Regions from separate parts of the Homo sapiens genome. Here region 2 is linked to region 1. The links come from fine-mapping of genetic effects on gene expression. A gene starts in region 1. The other region holds a variant in brackets. All regions are shown on one strand. Distances are between the middles of the regions.

Evidence for each region.
Region 2: its variant is fine-mapped to the expression of ZNF384 in whole blood (INTERVAL, PIP above 0.99).

Annotation. Positions count from the first base shown.
Region 1 is chr12:6,686,897-6,692,207 of GRCh38, reverse strand. ZNF384 (zinc finger protein 384) reads left to right here and starts at 2,833. Exons shown (of 12, transcript NM_001385745.1): 1 at 2,833-3,110; 2 at 3,982-4,041. It also overlaps a transcript of PIANP not described here. RefSeq lists silencers at 2,715-2,794, 2,875-2,984 and an enhancer at 2,355-2,981.
Region 2 is chr12:6,664,548-6,669,921 of GRCh38, reverse strand. ZNF384 (zinc finger protein 384) reads left to right here. Exons shown (of 12, transcript NM_001385745.1): 11 at 733-891; 12 at 1,807-3,445. The coding sequence ends at 2,208. Among named protein-coding and RNA genes, the nearest start is that of ING4, 4.1 kb to the right of the region's middle. The variant T/C (reference allele first, on the strand shown) is at 3,121.

The DNA.
Region 1 (5,311 bases):
AATACACCAGCAAGGTACTGGAAATCCTCACCTGTTCCCTCTTCCTAAATGTCCTCCTTTCCCCATGGAAAGTCAGAAGGCAGGAAAGACAGAGGAGGAAGGAGACTGTTCCAGACTCTGAACTGTACTAAAAAAATTCTCCCAAATGATACTGCACTGTCACGTTAGCCATGAAGAGTCGTAAGGCCCTGGGGAGCAAGCCCTAACTTTTCTCTCCTGTAGTTGAAACAGAGACTGTGGGGCTTTGAGAGGTCCTCAGAAAGCTGCAGCAGAGTCACTAGCCAAGAAAAAAACAATGGCCATGCTGTCCTTTTGGGAACTGGAAGGTTCTTCGAGGTCACACATCACAGCCACCACTGGAACCAGCGTCTCATCACCATCCTTTCTTTGCCTCCTGAGCTGTGCATCAAATGACTCAGCCAGGCTTCTCTTAGCATTTTTCTGGAATGCTTGCCACTGCGGCTTAGACCAAACCAGGGAATGGGGAAGCCCCCAGGAGGAGGGAGGGATCTCCCAGGCACAGCTTAGGGTGTGGAAGTGATTCAAGATGGAAACAGTATGCCAGCTGGAGAACCCCAGGCTAAAATTAACAGCCCTCCTCCCCCTACGCCCCACATTTATTGTTCTAAAGCTTTTCCCTAAGGAGTTCAAAGCACTTGAAACTTCTTTTTTTTTTTTTTGAGATGGAGTTTAGTTCTTGTTGCCCAGGCTGGAGTGCAATGGCGCAATCTTGGCTCACCACAACCTTCGCCTCCCAGGTTCAAGTGATTCTCCTGCCTCAACCTCCCAAGTAGCTGGGAAACTTCCTTCTTATAGCAAGGGCAGGAATAGGGCTGACGGAGACACGGAGACCCAGGAAGTGCCCAGTTAACATAAATAGGAAAAGAGCAGGAGGAGAACCAGAACGTATAGCTATTATTACTATTTCCTGTTCCCACCTTTCAATACCAGCCCCTGATGTCAAGGTTTCTTGAATCAGCAATCTCTAACCCACACAGCAATAGGTCTGGTCACATCTGAGCCCTTAAAATCCTTACTCTGCCAACTGTTGCTACTCAGTCAACAGAGACTGAGTGCTGAGCCCAAAAATGTGATAAAGGGAACAGACACTTTAAAAAAGATACAAACTACAATTACAATGAAATGCATCATCTATTTAAATATTTAAAGGCGTACTTTGTTACTTTCTTGCTTTGACCTTGGGGGAAAAAATCACTTAATCCTTTACAGGCTTATTTTCATTATCTGTAAAATGAGCATTATAATTATTTCTGTTAAAGTTATTTTTTGCTGGGCGTGGTGGCTCACGCCTGTAATCCCAGCACTTTGGGAGGCTGAGACAGGTGGATCAGTTGAGGTCAGGAGTTCGAGACCAGCCTGGCCAACATGGTGAAACCCCGACTCCACTAAAGATACAAAAAATTAGCCCGGTGTGGTGGCGGGCGACTGTCATCCCAGCTGCTAGGGAGGCTGAGGCAGGAGAATCGCTTGAACCCAGGAGGCAGAGGTTGCAGTGAGCCAAGATGGCGCCAATGCACTCCAGCCTGGGCAACAGGGTGACACTCTGTCTTTAAAAAAAAAAAAAAAAGGTTATTTTTCTCAGCAAGAGGCTCTTACCATTAGTAGGAGAGACCTCAGTTCTGCTTAGAGCTGAGCCCAGGGGGATTCTGGCCAGGTCGGGGTGCACGCTTGTAACAGCATTCACTTGTTCAAACAACATATTCAGCATTTACTATATGCTCAGCAAAGCAACGTATTTCCTTCCATGAGGAACTGACAATCTTGCTGGGGAATCACATGTATGAAATAGTTAAAATATCAATAAAAGGTACGTATTAAATACTATGGGAATTCAGAGGGACCATTACAGGTTGGAGCAATCAGGCAAGGCTTCCTAAAAGGGTTCATATTTAGGTGTTCATAATGAACTATAGTTCATTTATACAACAAGAGTTTACAGACCACTTAACTGCCAGGATATGAGGATACAGCAACGAACAATTCAGTCCTCGCTGTCCTGTAGCCAATATTTTAGTTGGGAGAGGTGGACAGCAAACAATAAATCAGGCAGTAATAAGTGCTATATTTAAGTAAAACAGGGTAAGGGGATAGAGATGTGGGTATGGGCAACAAGAAAAGACCAAAGTAAAGTAAGGGATGTGTCAGAGAGACAGATTTTGATGGCTGGGAGAGTTTCTAACTGGACCTAAGTAGGGACCTCCGAAAAACAAGGATACGTCCTAGTCCTTTCCCGCATATTCAAAGCATTGAGACATTCTTGGGGGTATCAGAAAAAATAATGGTAATTTCCTACATCAGCTTATTCAACATCCAGAGGGAAGAGAAACGGGGTCCCAGCATCTGAAGAACCCACACCTCCTCTCCTACCTTGATGGATAATTCATGAACCTGTCGCGTTTCCACCCCCCCACCTTCCCCAGATGTCCCTTCCGGAAGCTCAGGGCCGGAGTCCTCCGGTTTCAGCTTTTGCCCCTAGCGGAACCCGCCTTCACTTCCGCTATAGCGTCACATCCCCTCTTCCCAGTCGCTGGGCAGAAGCTATTTCCGCCCCGAGTTATCGTAACTTCTGCCCTGAATATCTCGCAGCGCTAGCGGCGCCGGAAGTGTTCCAGCCACTCCCGGAAGTGACTCGGCTTCTGCACGCCCCTCTTTCTCCATTAGCGCCCCCCCTACATTGCTATTTCCCTCCCTCCCCCCTTTTCGTTTCCGGCGCTCCCGCCTTCTCTCCGCAGAGCTCTTCTCTGAGCCTGTTGGGGGGAGGGAGGGGGGCGTGGAGGAACTGGGGTTCGCGGGAGCACGAGCTGCAGCACCACTTCCGGGTGAGTGCAAGGGGAGGGCAGCAAGGAGGGGGGGCCACCCACTACCTCGCGCCCCCGCCCTGCGGGTGTCTCGCGCGCGTTCCGTGCGTGTGAGTGTGTGGGTCTGTCTCGCTCCAGAAGTGCGTGCCCGCGCGCTGCGCCTTGCGCTTTTTCCCCTCCCTCGCCCCTTCCTGGTCCTCCCACCCTCCTCGGCTCCCTCCTTTCCCAGCAAACGCCGCCCCTCCCGCGCCCTGGCTCAGGCTCTGGCGCCGCCGCAGCCGTCGCCGCCCGGTGAGTCTCGCGCCGCTACAGCCGGCGCGCGCCAAGCTGCTTGCTCCTCCCCCCTCCCCTTTTCCTTGGGCAGGCGGGGAAGGGGGGGTCCACGATGTGACTGTGTGTGTGTCCGTCCCGGAACCGGAAGTGGTTGTGGAGGAGCGGGCGATGGGAAGGAATGGGGGGGTTTAGGGGGCGGGTGCCTGTCTGGTGGGTGGCAGAGTTCAGCTCCCTGGAGGGGAAGGAGGGACGTCCCAAGGAAGGGTCTTTGAGAAAGGGGTAGGGGACGACATCAGGAGAAGGCTCCCAGGAACTGTCTCAGGGGAGCGAAGGTTTTGAGGGGACAGCTGGGGTCTCCAGTAGATAGACCACGGTGCAGGCTGAGGGAGGTACTTCTTGGCACAAGGCCTCGGGTAGGCAGGGGGCGAAGTCCTCGAAGAAGTGGGGGGAAGGCTAGAGGAAGTGGCTGGGCCTGAACTGGCACTGTGCCTGCCACAAGGTCTTGTGCATCCCCCAGCCCTCAGCTTTGCCTTCTGAAGCCACTCCTCAGGGGCACAGACCCTCCTCCTCCTCCATCTCTAATGTTCTCTGACCCCTGGTTACCTGTGGCCTGGGAACGAACAAGGACCAGTCTCTGAGCCTAGGAGTGAAACCCAAACGCTGGTGATAGAATTCGTCTTAGTTTCTGGGAATTGGATTTATTTCTCTTGTATCCACGTAGAGGGTAGCACTAGACTGCTGTTATTATATCCACCCGTCTTTGGATTGCTGGCTGGGGGGTCTGCCTGCCTTCCAGACTGACTGCTGACAAATAATTCCTGAGGTTCTCCACAGTTCTCTGGTGGCTGCACCCTGCCTGGCCCCTGTAACCTAGACAATTTGTTTACAGAAAGTTCAGGAGCCCTGGAAAGGAGAAGGAATAAGACGGCAGGAGGAAGAGAGAGAGAGGGTAAGATGATTTTTGGGTTAATGGCTTTTCTGGTTTTGGGGGAGAAGGGGTCACAACCAAATGGGGCGTGTGTGTGTTTCACAATGTGATAGAATACTTAAAGTAATAGCAATTGTAATGCTGAGATTGTTGTGGAGAGAAATCAGTTTTTTTCTATTATCTCTTGAGGGTCAGGAAGTTTTTGTGTAAAAAGTTGGCGCTATCCCCCATCACTTTCCATTCCTACTAATGCTCATCAGGAATGAAATATGAAATGCTCAGGTGAAGCCACTGAATAGTGTTGCCTTGTGTCCAAAGGGGAAATCTTTATTCTGCTTTGGGACACAAAGACCCTAAATGCCAATATAGTCCTTATGGAATTGCTTTCCTGTGTCTGGAACAAGCAGAGCTGAGTTTAGAATGGAGTTCCTATCCCAAATAGTCCAGTGGAGTGTTAGAAGTGGGTCTGTGGAGTGATTAGAATCTGTGACACAGGGTTATTTGAATTTGGTATGGCAAGATGAAATTTTCAGGGGAAAAAAAAAACTGCTTCATGGTTAGTCTGGAGTGAAGTGGATAAAACTGTACGGAGTAGACTCCAGAAGTAGGTCTGGAAGAGTTTCGGGTAGCCTGAAAATGACAGTGAGTGGACCTAAAGAGTTTGAGTTCAGAACTTATGATCCCAGAGGTTGGTTTATAAAATGCCCTGTGGGTTTCTGAGCCAAGTTGTTGATTAAATATTGGGTACATATCTCTTCTTCTCCAGTCTTATTTATTTATTTTGGCCTCACATTCCCCAGATCCATCATTTATAGTGGAACAGACAGGGCAAGGAGAACCACCGTGCCGTCCCTCCCACAGGATGCAGGGTAAAGTGGTCCGGTGGTGCCCAGGCTAGAAGCTGTTGGCCCAGGTTGCCAGCTGTGTGGTGGTAGCAGTCCTGTTTAGTTTGTTTGTGTATGGTGTGATGATGTTTCCCAGTAACATTGGGGTGCATTTGTTCTGAGTTACTTGTACTTGGAAGAGTTTATGGATACTGGCGGGAAAGCGTCACATCCTACTGGGATGGCCCTTCTTGAATGTCTTTAGACCCTGAGAGAAAGAGATTTTGTTTCCTTTTGGAGAAACAAAAAAAACTTTCTCTGTGTTTCTTCATTTCAAGTCTTGAGCTAAGGTAACCTTTCTGCAGTTGTGTGTTTTGGAATGGTTTCTCAATAGCGTCTTAAGTTCTTTCTGTAGTTGAATTCAAGTTGATTGTTTTTTTCCATCTTTTTCTTGTTGATGCTACTTG
Region 2 (5,374 bases), 22 kb after region 1:
GAGACAGAGGCTCGCTGGGTCACCTAGGCTGGAGTGCAGTGGTGTGATTTCAGCTTACTGCAACTTCCCAGGTTCAAGAGAGACAAAGGCAAACATTGTCTTATTATTTTGAAAAGATTTGGCTGGGCGCGGTGGCTCACACCTGTAATCTCAGCACTTTGGGCGGCGGAGGCGGGCGGATCACCTGAGCTCAGGAGTTGGAAACCAGCCTGGCCAACACGGTGAAACCTTGTCTCTACTAAAAATACAAAAAAAATTAGCCAGGCCTGGTGGCATGTGCCTGTAGTCCCAGCTACTTGCAGGCTGAGGCAGGAGAATCGCTTGAACCCGGGAAGCGGAGGTTGCAATGAGCCGAGATTGTGCCGCTGCACTCCAACCTGAGCGACAGAGTGAGAGACTTCATCTGGGAAAAAAAAAAAAAAAGAGTTTTGACCCTGTGGGCCCCCTGTGAAGGTCTTAGTGTTCCCTAAAGATCCCCATGCCTCATTTTAAGAACCACTGGACTGGTGAGACGGGCATAAGCTGTCTTGGGATCCTGGTATGTGCTACATGAGGTATGCTTCCACCCTTAGCCTGTAGCTTCTCAAGTTTCATTTGAAACAATTTCTACTTTCTTCAGATAGAGGGAGAAGCTGGGAGGCCTGACACCTACCTTTTTGCTTTCCATCGAGGTCAAGGGGGCAGGAGGAAAGAGTACAATGTATTCATTCTGGTTTCTCCCAATTTTCTCAGTCCCACAGACGGCAACACAACAAAGATAAACCCTTCAAGTGCCACAACTGTCATCGGGCGTACACGGATGCAGCCTCACTAGAGGTGCACCTGTCTACGCACACAGTGAAGCATGCCAAGGTGTACACCTGCACTATCTGCAGTCGGGCATACACATCAGTGAGTGCTCCGTTTCTTCTCTCCTTCCTCATAGTCCTCTAAGAGTACAGTCCACTTCACCCCATTTTCTGGGTAGAGATCTGTTGCAGTGAATACCCTGCCTCCCTAGCTCCAACTTAGCAGAACAGGTAAATATTCAGAAATTAATTAGACCCATTCTGAGGAATTTAGGGGATGCCTGATCTCCTAATCCTATAGAGACGCATAAGCTGTAATTCTTCATTTTACTTAAACATAAGGCAAAATAAAGCCACTTGAAATTTTGAGGGGAGCTGGATTTCAGTTAGGCATTTTCTTCTTCTTTTTTTTTTTTTTTTCTTTTTGAGACACAGTCTCGCCCTGTCACCCAGGCTGGAGTGCAGTGGTGTGATCTCGGCTCGGCTCACTGTAACCTCCACCTCCTGGGTTCAAGCGATTCTCCTGCCTCAGCCTCCCAAGTAGGTGGGATTACAGGTGCATGTTGCCATGCCCAGCAACTTTTTGTATTTTTAGTAGACATGGGGTTTCACCATGTTGCCCAGGCTGGTCTCAAACTCCTGACCTCAAGTGATCCACCTACCTCAGCCTCCCAAAGTACTGGGATTACAGGTGTGAGCCACCGCACCTGGCCCAGTTAGATATTTTCCATGAGACTCCAGAAAAGGTTGTAAAGTTGTTTCATTCAGGGGTCTTTGAAAAAAATAGCAGCTCATTCCTTTGCCAGTTGAATGTTGAGTGACTTCTAAAGGTTCCTCTCTTTTTTTTCTCAGTAGTGAGCCACTGAAAGTGCTACTTGAGTTTTGCTCAGTCTTGGCTCCAGAAAACCAGTATAAAGCTTACTCTGCTTACAGCAGAATCAGAGCCTGGGGTGCTAGTTACAAGTAATCTCTTTTCCTTCCTCTTTATCCCTCAACTTCTTTTTACCATCTCCCTCAGGAAACATACCTTATGAAACATATGCGCAAACACAACCCGCCTGATCTTCAGCAACAGGTGCAGGCAGCAGCAGCAGCGGCAGCAGTGGCCCAGGCCCAGGCTCAAGCTCAAGCCCAGGCTCAGGCTCAGGCTCAAGCCCAGGCCCAGGCCCAGGCCTCCCAGGCATCACAGCAGCAGCAGCAGCAGCAGCAGCAGCAGCAGCAGCAGCAGCAACAGCCACCACCACACTTCCAGTCTCCTGGGGCAGCCCCCCAGGGTGGGGGTGGTGGGGACAGCAATCCCAACCCTCCACCCCAGTGTTCCTTTGACCTGACCCCGTATAAGACGGCGGAGCATCATAAGGACATCTGCCTCACTGTCACCACCAGCACCATCCAGGTGGAGCACCTGGCCAGCTCTTAGAGATCCGTGCTGCCACCCACTGGGAAGAGGAAGAAGTAGTCCTGGTGTCTTCTTTCTCCAACTCTTGGTGGGAAAAGTCCTTTTCTTCCTTGACAGGCCTTGGCTCCATCTCCTTGGGCCTCTGTCACGGCTTTCCTTCACAGGATACCATCCTTTTTCTGAACTCTTCTTCAAAAGGAACATCAGCCCTCCTGATTGCAAAGGAATACTGAGCTGATGGTGTCATCCAGCAGCCTCCCCTCCCAAGCAAAGCTTCTAAAACTGGGGGTCGGTGCTCAAGGGAAGGATTTGCTATGACCTCATAGAACCTTGTCCAGTGTGGCCACTTACCCTATCCTTACCCTCCTTATCCTCAAAGTTTGGGCTGATGTAAGACTAGAGGCTGGCCCTCCCAGATAACAGAGAAAAGGGAGCCCCAAATGCAACCAGCCTCTTGTTCTATTCTTGCCTGCAAAAGAACAGAGGTTTCTCAAATGCCTCAGTCCCTGAGAGCCATTTCTTCCCCTACATCGTCTCACTTTGCTTCCTATTGACTGCTGGTAGAAGGAGATTTGGGGTAGGGGCTAGACCTCCTTTTATTTGAAGGGGGCAAGGGCTGAGATGTGGTCCCCAAGGGGCCAGAAATTCCCAAGTTGGTCACAGGTGGCTTAGAAGTGTGTGTTATGGTTTTACGGATTTCCTTGAAGCCTCTCTCCTTCTCTGCCTACAAAGACCCTATACTCTCAGTCTCCCCAACCCACCCCCAAGGAGCTGTGGGAGGCTTTGTGTTATCTGTGAAACTCCAAAACAGGGGTGTTGCGGAGAAGGGAGAGTTCAAGGCAAACGCAAGGACTGGACTTAGCTCCCTAGGTGCCACAGTCAGATGCCGGACACGGATTTATATATAAATATATATATATAAATATATTATAC[T/C]CACTCATCACGGCCATCTTTGTTGTAACCATTTCTGTGTTTATAAATGCATTATCTCTGAGAATTTTCATATTTGATGTTTTGTTTATTTTTGTCCTTTTTTTCCCTCTCTCCACCCCTGTCCTCTAGCCACAGCATTTTTCTTTTTGTCTTTTTTTTTTTTTTTTAAATCATGGCAGATTTCAGAGGAAAGGAAATTAAAAAAAAAATCAGGAAACCAGTTGTTATAAAGTAATTTAAAAATGAAGAAAAAAAGAAAAAAACTTATGTACAAACCAAGGGGTGTTTTTAGAACATTGTATAGAAATAAATTCATGTAAAAGGATCAGAGGCAGTGGAGCTACTGATGTGAGCGAGCATGCGGAAAAGGTATTTGGGGAGATGTCCAAGAACAGTACTGAGGATTTATACCAGAGTGTGTGTGTGATGAACAAGTGCTTGTGTGATGATGCCCCATTTGTGCAATTCTCCAGTCATGGAAGGGTACAGTTTCATGATGTCTCCAGTGAAATCCTGGTTTATGAGGACTTCTACATACACATTCTGTCATGGGGATTGCATTGCCTAAATATGTGAGAGCAAGGCTTTGGTTATGTGTTAACAAAACAGCTAAGCTCCCTATGGAAGAAAAATGGAAGCCTCTTGAAAGGACCTACACTCCTGCCTGAGTCTGTGGAAGAGGGGCTTGCAGTTGGCAATGTGTATACATATGTGTATTTGTTACCTTGTGGAAATCATAACCGGTTAAGGGGTGCAAGATTGATTTATGCAGGAGAGCTGTAGTACTATGGAGTAGAATGTGGTCATGAAACCTGGACTTCAGCCCTTTGCCTACCATCAACCAGTGTTGGCCAGGGTGCTTCTTCAACTGTTAGTGAAGGGATTGGACTAGATAACTCTGAAGATACCTTTTTTGAGAATTAAGTAACTTGCTTTAAGGCTGGGTGCGGTGGCTCACGCCTGTAATCCCAGCATTTTGGGAGGGCGAGGCAGGCAGACTACTTGACGTCAGGAGTTCAAGACCAGCCTGGCCAACATGGTGAAACCCCATCTCTACTAAAAATACAAAAATTGATGGCCGTGCACGGTGGCTCACGCCTGTAATCCCAGCACTTTGGGAGGCCGAGACAGGTGAATCATGAGGTTAGGAGCTCGAGACCAGCCTGGCCAGTATGGTGAAACCCCGTCTCTACTGAAAATACAAAAAATAAGCTAGGCATAGTGGTGGGCGCCTGCAATCCCAGCTACTCAGGAGGCTGAGGCAGGAGAATCTTTTGAACCTAGGAGGCAGAGGTTGCAGTGAGCCAAGATCGTGCCATGGCACTCCAGCCTGGGCGACAGAGTGAGACTCTCTCTCAAAAAAGTAAAATAAAAATACAAAAATTAGCCAGGTGTGGTGGCACGCGCCTGTAGTCCCAGCTGCAGGCTGAGGCAGAAGAATGACTTGAACCTGGGAGGCGGAGGTTGCAGTGAGCCGGGATTGCACCACTGCACTCCAGCCTGGGCCACAGAGCGAGATTCTGTCTGGAAAAAAAAAAAAAAACAAAAAAAAAAAAACCTTGCTTTAAGCACCGAAAAAGTTGTGAAAGTTGTGACCAAGCTCCCACATCCTGAGAACTCTGGGACTGCTGGCCAATAGTACTTGTTATGTAGTTGGGCTGGGATAAATAAAGCCCACTTAATTTAGTGCTAGATATCCTGTGTGGGCACCTAAGATGGTGTCTCAATATGTTGTGTAATACCAATGAATGTATCACATATGACCAAATATGCCAATGTTTCTTAGCTCCCTGCATATTTACTGCTTTTTCCTCCCACTCTCACCAACTCTTGAAAAGGCCCTAATGGCCCTAACTTCATCACCAGTATTAGAACTAGAATCTACTCTTTTTATGGATACACTCACACTCACTTATTCCAACAACCCTATGAGGGAGGTAGTAGTCTCATTGTATAGTAAAACAGGCACAGAGATCAAGTTACCGAAAAGCATGACTTTTGTAATTAGAGCAGTTTCCCGGATTCTATTGCTGTATCTTACTACCTGCACACTAGTAAACCTGGGGTTTACAGGCTACAGATCCTTTCAGCTCTGATACCCCCACCACTCTACAGCCCCTGAACCCCCTCCTCCAGCCTGCTCTTACTGTCCAGATAATGTTTCAAATACATCCCTGCATCCATCTCGAAGCAAAACAAAGCAACTTCCAATCCGCCCCGGGTTGGAAGTTCCTCTTCTCCACATATTTGGTAG